2 separate regions of the Homo sapiens genome follow, and region 2 is linked to region 1. Evidence: fine-mapped expression QTL. A gene starts in region 1. The other region holds a variant in brackets. All regions are shown on one strand. Distances are between the middles of the regions.

What was found. PIP is the estimated chance that this variant, and not a neighbour inherited with it, causes the effect.
Region 2: its variant is fine-mapped to the expression of HTD2 in whole blood (TOPMed, PIP above 0.99). The same link has a PIP of 0.9 or more in lung.

Annotation. Positions count from the first base shown.
Region 1 is chr3:58,304,259-58,309,570 of GRCh38, reverse strand. HTD2 (hydroxyacyl-thioester dehydratase type 2) reads right to left here and starts at 3,051. Exons shown (of 5, transcript NM_001348712.2): 1 at 2,920-3,051. It overlaps RPP14 (ribonuclease P/MRP subunit p14), which reads right to left and starts at 3,326. Exons shown (of 6, transcript NM_007042.6): 1 at 3,154-3,326. RefSeq lists enhancers at 2,761-2,890, 3,011-3,270, 3,461-3,540.
Region 2 is chr3:58,333,084-58,338,456 of GRCh38, reverse strand. PXK (PX domain containing serine/threonine kinase like) reads right to left here. Exons shown (of 18, transcript NM_017771.5): 1 at 5,367-5,373. Among named protein-coding and RNA genes, the nearest start is that of PXK, 2.9 kb to the right of the region's middle. RefSeq lists silencers at 4,721-5,015, 5,262-5,373. The variant C/T (reference allele first, on the strand shown) is at 3,200.

The DNA.
Region 1 (5,312 bases):
TCTAATTCTGATCAAACTAAGGTTACCCATACGAATACAAAATAAGTTTCTATATTCTATAAATGTCAAATCACTGTACTCTTACTTAAAACATAACAACATAATTTTGGCTAACAATTTTCCTTATGAGCACCCAGCTCTTTGCTAAACATTTCACATGCCTTAGCTTGTCTTCAAAATGCTCCTGAGGTAAGAGGTATTATTATTCCCATTTTCGAGAAGATGACACAGAGGTTTAGTAAACGTAGGTAACATCTGCCCAAGGGTGCCCAGAGATTCCAACCACTCTGAGCCCACTCAAGACCAGTTACGATGCCTCTTTATCCAAAGAAAAAGAAAAGACATAAAGGAGTAAAATCTAAGATTTGAAGGTCCTCTTCTTGTTTACTCTCAGTCAACACAGAACACAAAGAGAAGAATGAGGGATGGTCGTTCTGCCGTCTCCTCCCATCCTGTGTCTGCCTGCTCTCAGTCCAAAAGCCAGGTCTGTGCAAGACTATCTGTGAACAACTGAGCTTAAACAGCACAGGGGTTGAGAAGAGGGATTCCTGGAAGGGGCACTCAATGCAGCTTCTAAAAGGTCTGAACTTTCAAGAACGTAGAACATGCTCATCTCTCTGTAGACAGTTCCTTTCCTTGGCTCCATGCCAACCTTGCTCTCCCTCTGGATAGGTCCTATTCATCCTTCAACTTTCAGTTTAAATACCACCTCTTCATGAAGGTCTTCTCTGACACCCTTCTCTAAGTTAAGCCCCCATGTTATGCAATCTCTTAACACTGTCTATTTGTTTAATATATGGATCCCCCACTACAGGGAACAGGAAACTGAGGCCCAATCAAGGAAAGGGACTTATCCAAGGTCACAGAGCTATGGACCAGCATTTCAAAACCACTCTGGGTTAGACCCAGTTCCAACCACTCCCAGATGATGACCTCTGGAGAAAAGAAGTCAGGGTCAAGGAGCTACATCTACCAATCCATTCAACAAACATTAATACTTTGGGGCCTGGCGTGGTGCTCATGCCTGTAATCTCAACAGTTTGGGAGGCCAGGAGTTTGAGACCAGCCTGGGAAACATAGTGAGACCCTGTCACTAAAAAAAAAAACAAAAAAACTTAAATTAACCAGGCATGGTAGTGTGTGCCTGTAGTCCCAGCTACTCCAGGGGCTGAGGTGGGAGGATAGCTTGAGTCTGGGAGGTTAAGGATACAGTGCACTGTGATTGTACCACTGCACTCCAGCCTGGGTGACAGAGCATGACCCTGTCTCCAAAACAAACAAACAAAAAATACTGTAATACTATGACACAAAGTAGGTATTCAAATGAGAGAAAAGTGATAGTGGTATAGGCCTATATATTCAAAAGAATCCTTGGTTTCAGGACAGCGGAAATAGTTACCTGATGCTTCTTTCCCAGTCACTAGAGTCTCCCCTAACTAGAAGGGCAGGGAGAACAAGAAACCTCATCTGTTTCTTTCATTGCTTGGCACATAAATGTTTTTTAGTGTTACTGCCTTGATGGAGCTGGCTGCCTAAAATAGGGGAGTGAAATTAGACCCAGGGCTTAGATGCCAGTAAAACGAAGACTTACACAACATTCACGAGATGGACAGTGGTGATGGCTGCACAGCGTTGTGAATGTACTCAATGCTACTTACGATAAATTTTATGTCACGTATTTTTTGCAATTAAAAAAAAAAAAAAAGACTTACAAATGACAGCACTGCCCTCTGCAGGCTGTTCTGACATTAAAGGAGAGGATACCTGGGAAATTATTTTGTACAGACTGGTATTAAATATATTCACCAGGCTCTCCACAGATGTGGGCTCACGAAGTTACTGTCATCGTCATCTTTAAAGTCAGTCTTGTTGTTTGTTTTGAGATGGAGTCTCACTCTGTCGCCCAGGCTGGAGTGCTTTGGGTCGAAGCAATTCTCGCTCCTCAGTCTCCTGAGTAGCTGGGATTACAGGCGTACGTCATCACGCCCAGCTAACTTTTGTATTTTTAGTACAAATGGGGTTTCGCCATGTTGGCCCAGGCTGGTCTCGAACTCCTGGCGTCAAGTGATCCGCCGACCTCGGCCCCCTCAAAGTGCTGGGATTACAGGCATGAGCCACCGCGCCCGGCCTAGAGTCAGCCTTTTTTAGTGGCTGCGCAGGGATGCTCCTAATCTGACCTATTAGTAATAAATCTGATTCTCCCTACTCCCCCGCTTCTCCATCCCTACGGCGGCCAGTGAGTCTATTAACATCTACTCAAGCTACATCATTCCTCTGCTCAAAATCTTGCTATGGTTCCCGTTTTATCCAGAGTAAGGCCAAAGTCCTTAGAGCAGCCTGCAAGGCTCTGCCTCACCTGCAGGACTGCTCCCTCTACACCTCTGACTTCATGTCCTGCCATTCTCCCTCCGCTCAATCCCCGCCACCACACAGGCCTAGCCTAGCTCTTTCTCACGCGCCAGTCTCGCTCCCACCGCTGGGCCTCGGCTCTAGCTTTTCCCCATGCTGGGAAAGATCTTCCTCCAGGCAGCCACCGGACTCACACCCTTGCCCCCTTCCTGGCTTAGCTCAAATCTCAATCGGGTTGGCCCAGTGCCCTTCTCGGCTAACACCGCACCCCACCCCCATGCCCCGTCCCTGCTTTCTTCTTCGTAGCATTTGCCTTTTTCTATGACAATTATGTAACTCGTTTATCTTTATCTGTACTTCCCCTCCCCACCCCAACAAAAGTCCACTCCAAGAATCTTGCTATCTTGTTCACTGCTGTTTCCCAAGGCCCTAAAACACTGGGTCGTGCACAGTGGGCGTGCGACGTACAATTTTTGGACTAAATCAATCACTTTAAAAAGCTCAATATCCTTACTGCTGAGCACTTGGGTGGCTTTCAATATTTTTCAACAACCACTATTTAGCGCTCACCTCGCGCCGGGCGCATGGAGAGCGCTCAGGACACGGTCCCGAAGTCTCGCCCGGGCCTCTCGGCCACGTTCTGCGGCCGAGACCCTACGCGGCGCCGTACAGAGGCCCTCAGCGCCCGGGGTCGGAGAGGACAAGCTACCCAAGGCGCACCGCCCGCCCCGCGCATGCGCCCGGGTCGCGGCCAACTGAGACGGCTCCCAGACAACCGCCGCTCTTTGGAAGGCTTCCACCTACCCACTCTTCGTCGGACTAGCCTGACGCCTGACCAGACTCCTATTCGCCGCAAGGACCCGCCAAGGCTTGGGGCTCCCCGGCAGCAGCCACAGCTGGGCCCGAGAAACTCCTGGTGTCTTTACGTTTGGCTTCTCCTCGTCCCGCCCCACGAAGCGTGACGCCCAGGCGGATATGACGTCACCACGCGGCGTCGTCCTAAGGACCCAGGCGCGAATCCTGATCCGGAGCTGAGAGCGGCCGAGCTCAGCGCCCTCTGGTGTCCACTCCGGGAAAGCCGTGTGTGCAATTTGCTTGGGGTGCGGTTTAGGGCGGGTTTTTTCCGCCTTGGACGGTGCTTCATAGTTATCCATTTCTTCATGCATTCATTCATTCATTCAACAATTTTTTCGTTGTTTTTTTGAGACAGTTTCACTCTGTCGCCCAGGCTGGAGTGCACTGGCGCGATCTGGCTTACTGCTACCTCCGCCTCCAGGGCTCAAGCGATTCTCCCACCTCAGCCTCCTGAGTAGCTAGGACTACAGGTATGCTCCACCATGCCTGGCTAATTTTTGTATTTTTAGTAGAGACGGGGTTTCACCATGTTGGCCAGGCTGGTCTCGAACTCCTCGCCTCAAGTGATCTGCCCACCTTGGCCTCCCAAAGTGCTGGGATTACAGACGTGAGCAACTGCGCCCGAGTCATTCTACACATTTTTTTCATTATATTATAATTTATTTATTGAGATGGAGTCTCGCTCTGTCGCCCAGGCTGGAGTGCAGTGGCGCCATCTTGGCTCACTGCACCCTCCGCCTCCCTTCAAGTGATTCTTCTGCCTCAGCCTCCCAAGTAGCTGGGACTACAGGCATGCACCACCATGCCCAGCTAATTTTTGTATTTTTAGTCGAGACGAGGTTTCACCATGTTGGCCAGCATGGTCTCAATCTCTTGACCTCGTGATCTGTCCACCTCGGCCTCCCAAAGTGTTGGGATTACAGGCGTGAGCCACCGCGCCTGGCCTAATTTTTGTATTTTTAGTAGAGACAGGGTTTCACTATGTTAGCCAAGCAGGTCTCAAACTCCTGACTTCAGGCAATCCACCCACCTCGCCTCCCAAAGTGTTGGGATTACAGACGTGAGCCACCGCGCCCAGCCTACAAAATTATATCTAGCATCTCCTCTCCTCAAGATCTCCTATGTCAAGCACTCCCCAAAGATAGGACCCACTCTCAGTGTCCCTTGTGACTCCCAGCACATAGTAGGTGTTCTATCTAGGCCGTCCTGGAAAGACCCACAAAGTAAAGACTTACTTTGTGCTAGGCACTATGCAAAATATTTTACATATGTCATCTCATGGAACCCTCACACAATCCTGAGATGGCTATTACTATGATCATCACCATTTTAGAGGTAGAAACTGAGGCACAGGCCAGGCGCAGTGGCTCATGCCTGTAATTCCAGCACTTTGGGAGGCTGAGGCGGGCAGATCACTTGAGGCCAGGAATTCGAGACCAGCCTGGCCAGCATGGTGAGACCCCCATCTCTACTGAAAATACAAAAATTAGCTGGGCACGGTGGTGCACACCTGTAATCCCAGTTACTCGGGAGGCTGAAGCAGGAGAATTGCTTGAACCTGGGAGGTAGAGGTTGCAGTAAGCCGAGATCACACCACTGCACTCTAGCCTGGCAACAGGAAAAGAAACTGAGGCACAGAGAGGCTAAGTTATTTGCTCAAGATCACAGTTATAAGCAGTGGCATGGGCTGTCTGATTCTAGCCAGTGCTCTCCATACTGCACTGTATTACCACCAATTGAGGGGCTGCAGTGGGAAGGGAAACTTTAGTGTAACCCCCATGAGGATGGGGCCTTGTCTGTGTTTCTCACCACTGCATCCCAGTTCCTGGTACCCAATGGTGACCCAACATCTATTTACTGAAGGCATTTGTTCATAAATGGATGTGCTGGTTTTGCTTGGGTTGGGGGGCAAAGGGTTGCCTTGCACAGGACAGTTGAGTCAGCGGGGATCTCCTTCCTCAATTATTTTCTCAAAATCCCACTGTGTTGTTTCCAGAAGCTTCAGTCCTCAACCTTGGCCATGCTCTCCAGTTCTGTGGTTCCTACTTTCTTCTTCCTTCAGAGGAGACAGGGCTTGTTCCAGATGTGGGAAGAGGTGGAGAAAGCAA
Region 2 (5,373 bases), 29 kb before region 1:
GAGACAGGGTTTCACCACGTTGGCCAGGCTGTTCTCGAACTTCTGACCTCAGGTGATCCACCCGCCTCAGCCTCCCAAAGTGCTAGGATTATGGGCATGAGCCACCGCGCCTGGCCTAAAGAAACTTTTTTTTTTTTTTTGAGACGGAGAGTGCAATGGCGTGATGTCGGCTCACTGCAGCCTCCACCTCCCGGGTTAAAGGGATTCTCCTGCCTCAGCCTCCCAAGTAGCTGGACGACAGCCATGTGCCACCACGCCCAGCTAATTTTGTATTTTTAGTAGAGACTGAGTTTTACCATGCTGGTCAGGCTGGTCTCGAACTCCTGACCTCAGATGATCTGCCTGCCTCGGCCTCCCAAAGTGCTGGGATTACAAGTGCGAGCCACCACGCCTGGCTAAGAAATTTTTAAAGTATTCAGTATAACTTAGAATTCTAAAGAAACTTCCAAGTAGCATTCTAAAAGGAAGTTCAAATTCTGATACTGAGTACTAGATTACCCTAAAATTTCAGGATCTGAAAGCAGCAATGTCTCCTAATTTGCCATTACATTTGAATAGTTATTCTGGTGATAAATAAATAAAGTTTAAAAGTCTATAAAAAGGGTCGGGTCACTGATGAGAAGCTGAAGATCAATAAACCAAGCCACTAAAACCATCTGTTTTATGAATGGTAAAGATCCTAGTTGAGGCCAGGTACAGTGGCTCACACCTATAATCCCAGCATTTTGGGAGGCCGAGGCAGGAGGATCACTTGAACTCAGGAGTTTGAGACCAACCTGGACAACATAGCAAGACACCATCTCTACTAAAAATCAAAGAATTAGCCAGGTATGGTGGTGCATGCCTATAGTCCCAGCTACTCAGGAGGCTGAGGCAGGAGTATTCCTTGAGCCAGGAGACTGAGGTTGCCGTGAGCTGTGGTCCTGTACTCTAGCCTGGGTGACAGAGCAAGAACCTGTCTCACAATGAAAAAAAAAAGACCTTGGAATCCAACAGAACAAAAGCTCCATGGATGCAGGAGCTGTCTGGTTCACCATTCTATCTCTAGCATGTGCCTGGCACATAGTAGGCATTTAATACATTTTTGTTGAATGAATGAGTATAGCTGAATAAATAAGCCATGCAGGAATGCAGTTTCCAAATATCAAAAGTTCAAGGAGAGATCCATTTTCAGTAAAGATTTTAACATGTAATATTATCTTTTCCACTGATTTTAAAAAATGTTTTCTATTGTGCCTTAACTATCACTATAATTATCTGTTTCTCAAAAACAAAATGTCCAAATGGAAGATAAACAGTCCCTGATCCAGATGAACTCCACAGAAGAATATTTAAAAAGGAGAAAACTGCCAGGCATGGTGGCTCAAACCTGTAATCCCTGCGCCTTAGGAGCCCGAGGCAGGTGGATCACCTGAGGTCAGGTGTTCAAGACCAGCCTAGTCAACGTGGTGAAACCCCATCTCTACTAAAAATACAAAAATTAGCCAGGCATGGTGGTGCATACCTGTAATCCCAGCTACTTGGGAGGCTGAGGCAGAAGAATCGCTTGAACCTGGGAGGTGGAGGTTGCAGTGAGCTGAGATTGCGACCTGCACTCTAGTCTGGTGACAGAGCGAGACTCTGTCCCCCACCCCCCAAAAAAAGGAGAAAACTGAGATGAAAAGCTATCACACACAGCCTACCCACCAGCAAAAATTGGATGTGCACATTTGATAACAGCGCTTTCCAAAACTTTGTTTCCTCTGGTTTCTATTTCAGCTATGTAAGCATTTTTTTAGTCTACTAACTTTAAAAAGTTTTCCCTTTTATATAGCCAAGAACTTACCTTTCCCTTGTCCTCTCTTGGTCCTCCTAAATTTTCTCACAACTCACCTGTGTGGCTTTTCACCAGAATTCCTTTTGTCTGGAAAATCTTCCTTCTTCCTCCAAACCTAACCTGAAAGCATCCTCCCCCTAAATACTAGCCTTTCTGATTTTATAGAAGCTTCATTTCCTTGCAGCAGAGGGCTGGTCTAGCTCTTAATGCTAAATTCATTTTGCTCCATAAAAATGATGCATCAGCATCAGCAAAGCACAGAATCACCTACCAACACATGTCCTTTCTGCCAGTTGCTCATCCAAATATGCCTTTCTGGTGGTGACCTTGTGTTCCCTTCATCCTTCTGGTGACTCAGTTTTCCAAACCACAGAATTTTTCCCTACCAAGTTCACAAATCCTAAATCATTTCTGTTATAGGTGGTTTCCCAGCTGGGTGCAGTGGTTCACACCTATAATCCCAGCACTTTGGGAGGCTGAGGTGGGAGGATCACTTGAGGTCAGGAGTTCAAGACCAGCCTGGGCAACACAGCAAGAACCCCATTGGTATTAAAAAAAAAAAAAAAAAATATATATATATATATATATATATATATATATATGTTTCCCAAGGTTAAACAAACTTGATAAATGAAAGGAACTATGGACAGAAATGAGCTTGCTTGCAATAACGCCCTCTAATGTGTTTAACGCTTTGCACAAATGTTGTCAGGGAGTGAAGAGATGGAGGGAGGAAGGAATACATTTTACAAATACTTCATCAAGATGATTTCATTTGATCTTCCTAACAACCTTGGGAGGCAGGCAGGGCAGGCATTTATTACTCCCATTTACAGATGACAAAACTAAACTTCAAAAAGGTTTAAGTGACTTGCCCAGCCTATATCACATGACTAGCAAGTATCAGCTCAGACCTGTATTAAGGTCTTGCCTCTTCCAACCCCAAGTCTGTCTCTAACTCCGTATGTTTCTGTCTACAGCCAAGGAGTAACTTCCTAGAGATTCAGCATTTCAAAGCGAGAGTAGAGCTCTGACTTCTGGAACACCATCTCCCTTCAGCTACCAAGCTGGAAAGCCAACTTCAATCTCCCCAAGAAAAAACAGTGCCTTTCTCTTCTACATACCCCTCTTAACAACTACTTCTTTCCAAAATAATTTCCAACAGTTCCTGTTTTAAAAAAGACTTACTCATAAGACACTAACAGTCCAAAAAGTTTGCATCAGCGTAAGATTTTCTCAATAAACTTCAGGGCTGATGCAACATTTCTCAGTCAAACTTTACAGCTAAAATGACAAGAACACAGAACAGTCAAAAAATTACGCAAGACAATGCTACAGTTTTTTACTCTACCACATCTGCCTCTATGGGTCTCCTGTGAGTCA[C/T]TGTCTTTTGTGGTCAGTCATCCCTACAAGAACTGCCATTTTCTACCCTAAATTATTTTATTTTTTAAAGAAAAGATCTGCAGGGCCAGGTGTGGTGGCTCACATCTGTATACCAGCACTTTGTGGGGCTGAGGCAGGAGAACGGCCTGAGCCCAGGCGTTCCAGACCAGCCTGGACAACATGGTGAGACGCTGTCTCCACACACACACACACACACACACACACACACACACACACACCAGCCTGGACAACATGGTGAGACGCTGTCTCTACACACACACACACACACACACACACAGACACACACACACACACACACACACACACACCCTTACAATAAAAACAGAATCCTATTACATCTTTCGCCACCTAGCTAAAGCACTGATCTCTAAGTTATTTTTTCAATGTTTACAATTACCATTTTACATAAACAGAAAAAGAGGCATAGTAAGGTTGAAGTTGGATTATTTAGTCATTTGATAAACACATTTGAAATCCTATCAAAAACCAGGGAATGAGACTCAAAAGTGAGGAAGAAGTGCCCCTCCTCTTGTAGCCTGGTGGAGACAAAAAGTAAAGAAGTAATTACAGGACAAACTAATCAAGATTAAGGTGTGGGTAGGCACATGGGCTGGGGCTGTAGAAATCATGAATGCTTCCTAGGGAAAGTAATTTGTGAGTATTTAGAAACATCTATCTCTTTATTTTCAATACAAAATAAACCTAAAGGACTCGACACTATTCCCTGAAAGGTTATAAGACTTACTTGCCAATAGTCAAGTCAAAAATCAAATTTAATAGCTGAATTACTCTTGACTCCCTATCCTAAATTTCAACCCTTATGCCATACTCCCTTTAGGCACAAATGATAGCAAGTTTAACAAATTCTGTCCTGTATGTGCCTTCTCACATGTCTACAGAATAGGATTAAAGACACACAGCGTGAAATAAATAGCCCTTTTTAAAAAGATAATAATTTTCTTAACTGGAAGTGAATGCTTTGAACAATTCAAGCCCTACAAAGCACGGCTGTCAGAAGAGGAAACTGAGGTTCAAAAAAGTCTCACTTTAATACAACAGAATAAAAGGTCTCTTTGAAGTCATCAGAAGAGCTTGAACGAAAAGAGAAACAGAAGGCTATTGTGAGCTTTAGCCTCCAGATGATGACCCCCCAAACACACTGCAATGGTAAACAAACAAGCCTCTGAGTCTGAATCTGATTCGGTGGACTGACAAAACATCACAATTGAAGGAATCTCTCTCCTCACTCATTACTTTTCCAAAAAAGTCCCACTAGCTGATAGCTCCAGGTTTCTTGCTGGTTCCTAGATTTATTGCTTGGAAATTATAATGCATAGTGGGCCTTTCAAAAAAAAAAAAAGGTACAAGCAAATGAAAACAACCACGGTTTTAAAGCCCCATAAAAGACCGTATATGTAGCAGAAATGAACCCTGCCAATGTTTACTATGAGGACCTATTACTCCTTTATGCTACTCGAGTGGATTTTAAACTCAAATGAATGCTACCACTGCCCACTAAAGAGCAAGTTAGAGAAGCACATTCATACACCTGCTTAACAGCGCCCCGACTGCCGCCCCCACCACTTCCCGGGACCAGGGCCAAGCGGCTGACCTGGAAACGGGGCTGCAGACCCCAGCCACTTACACTCTGCTGTCCCAACAAGTAGGCTCTGGAGTCACACTTCATTTGGCCCGGCACACCCTCATCCCCATCACCCAGACCCTCAGCTGCAAGGAGGAAATTACACGGCCTCAAAAAGGAAAAGGCTGGCGGCGGGCAGAAGTGGATGGTCCTGAGCGGTCTCGTTCCTGCTCCCCTAGTCCAAGGTGAGCCCGGGAATCCCGCAGCCCCCGCCCCCGCCCCCCAACTCGGAGTCGCTTTCCTGGTCGCCGCCGAGCTCCTTCCACCCCGCGGCGCCGGGAGCTGCGGTCCCCATCCTTGGCCCCTCCGGGCCTCAGCGTTCGCCTGGGCCCCAGGGGCCCTGACCCAGACCCAGCGGCGCGCCACAGCCTTCTCGGCCAGGGCCGCCCACCCTGTGGCCCGGTCTCCGTCCGACGACCCTGCCCGGCCCGCGCCAGGCAGCCCGCAGCCCCCTCGCGGCCCGGGGCCGCCCCACGCCGCCCGCCCGCCCGCTGGGCCGCGCACCGTGTGG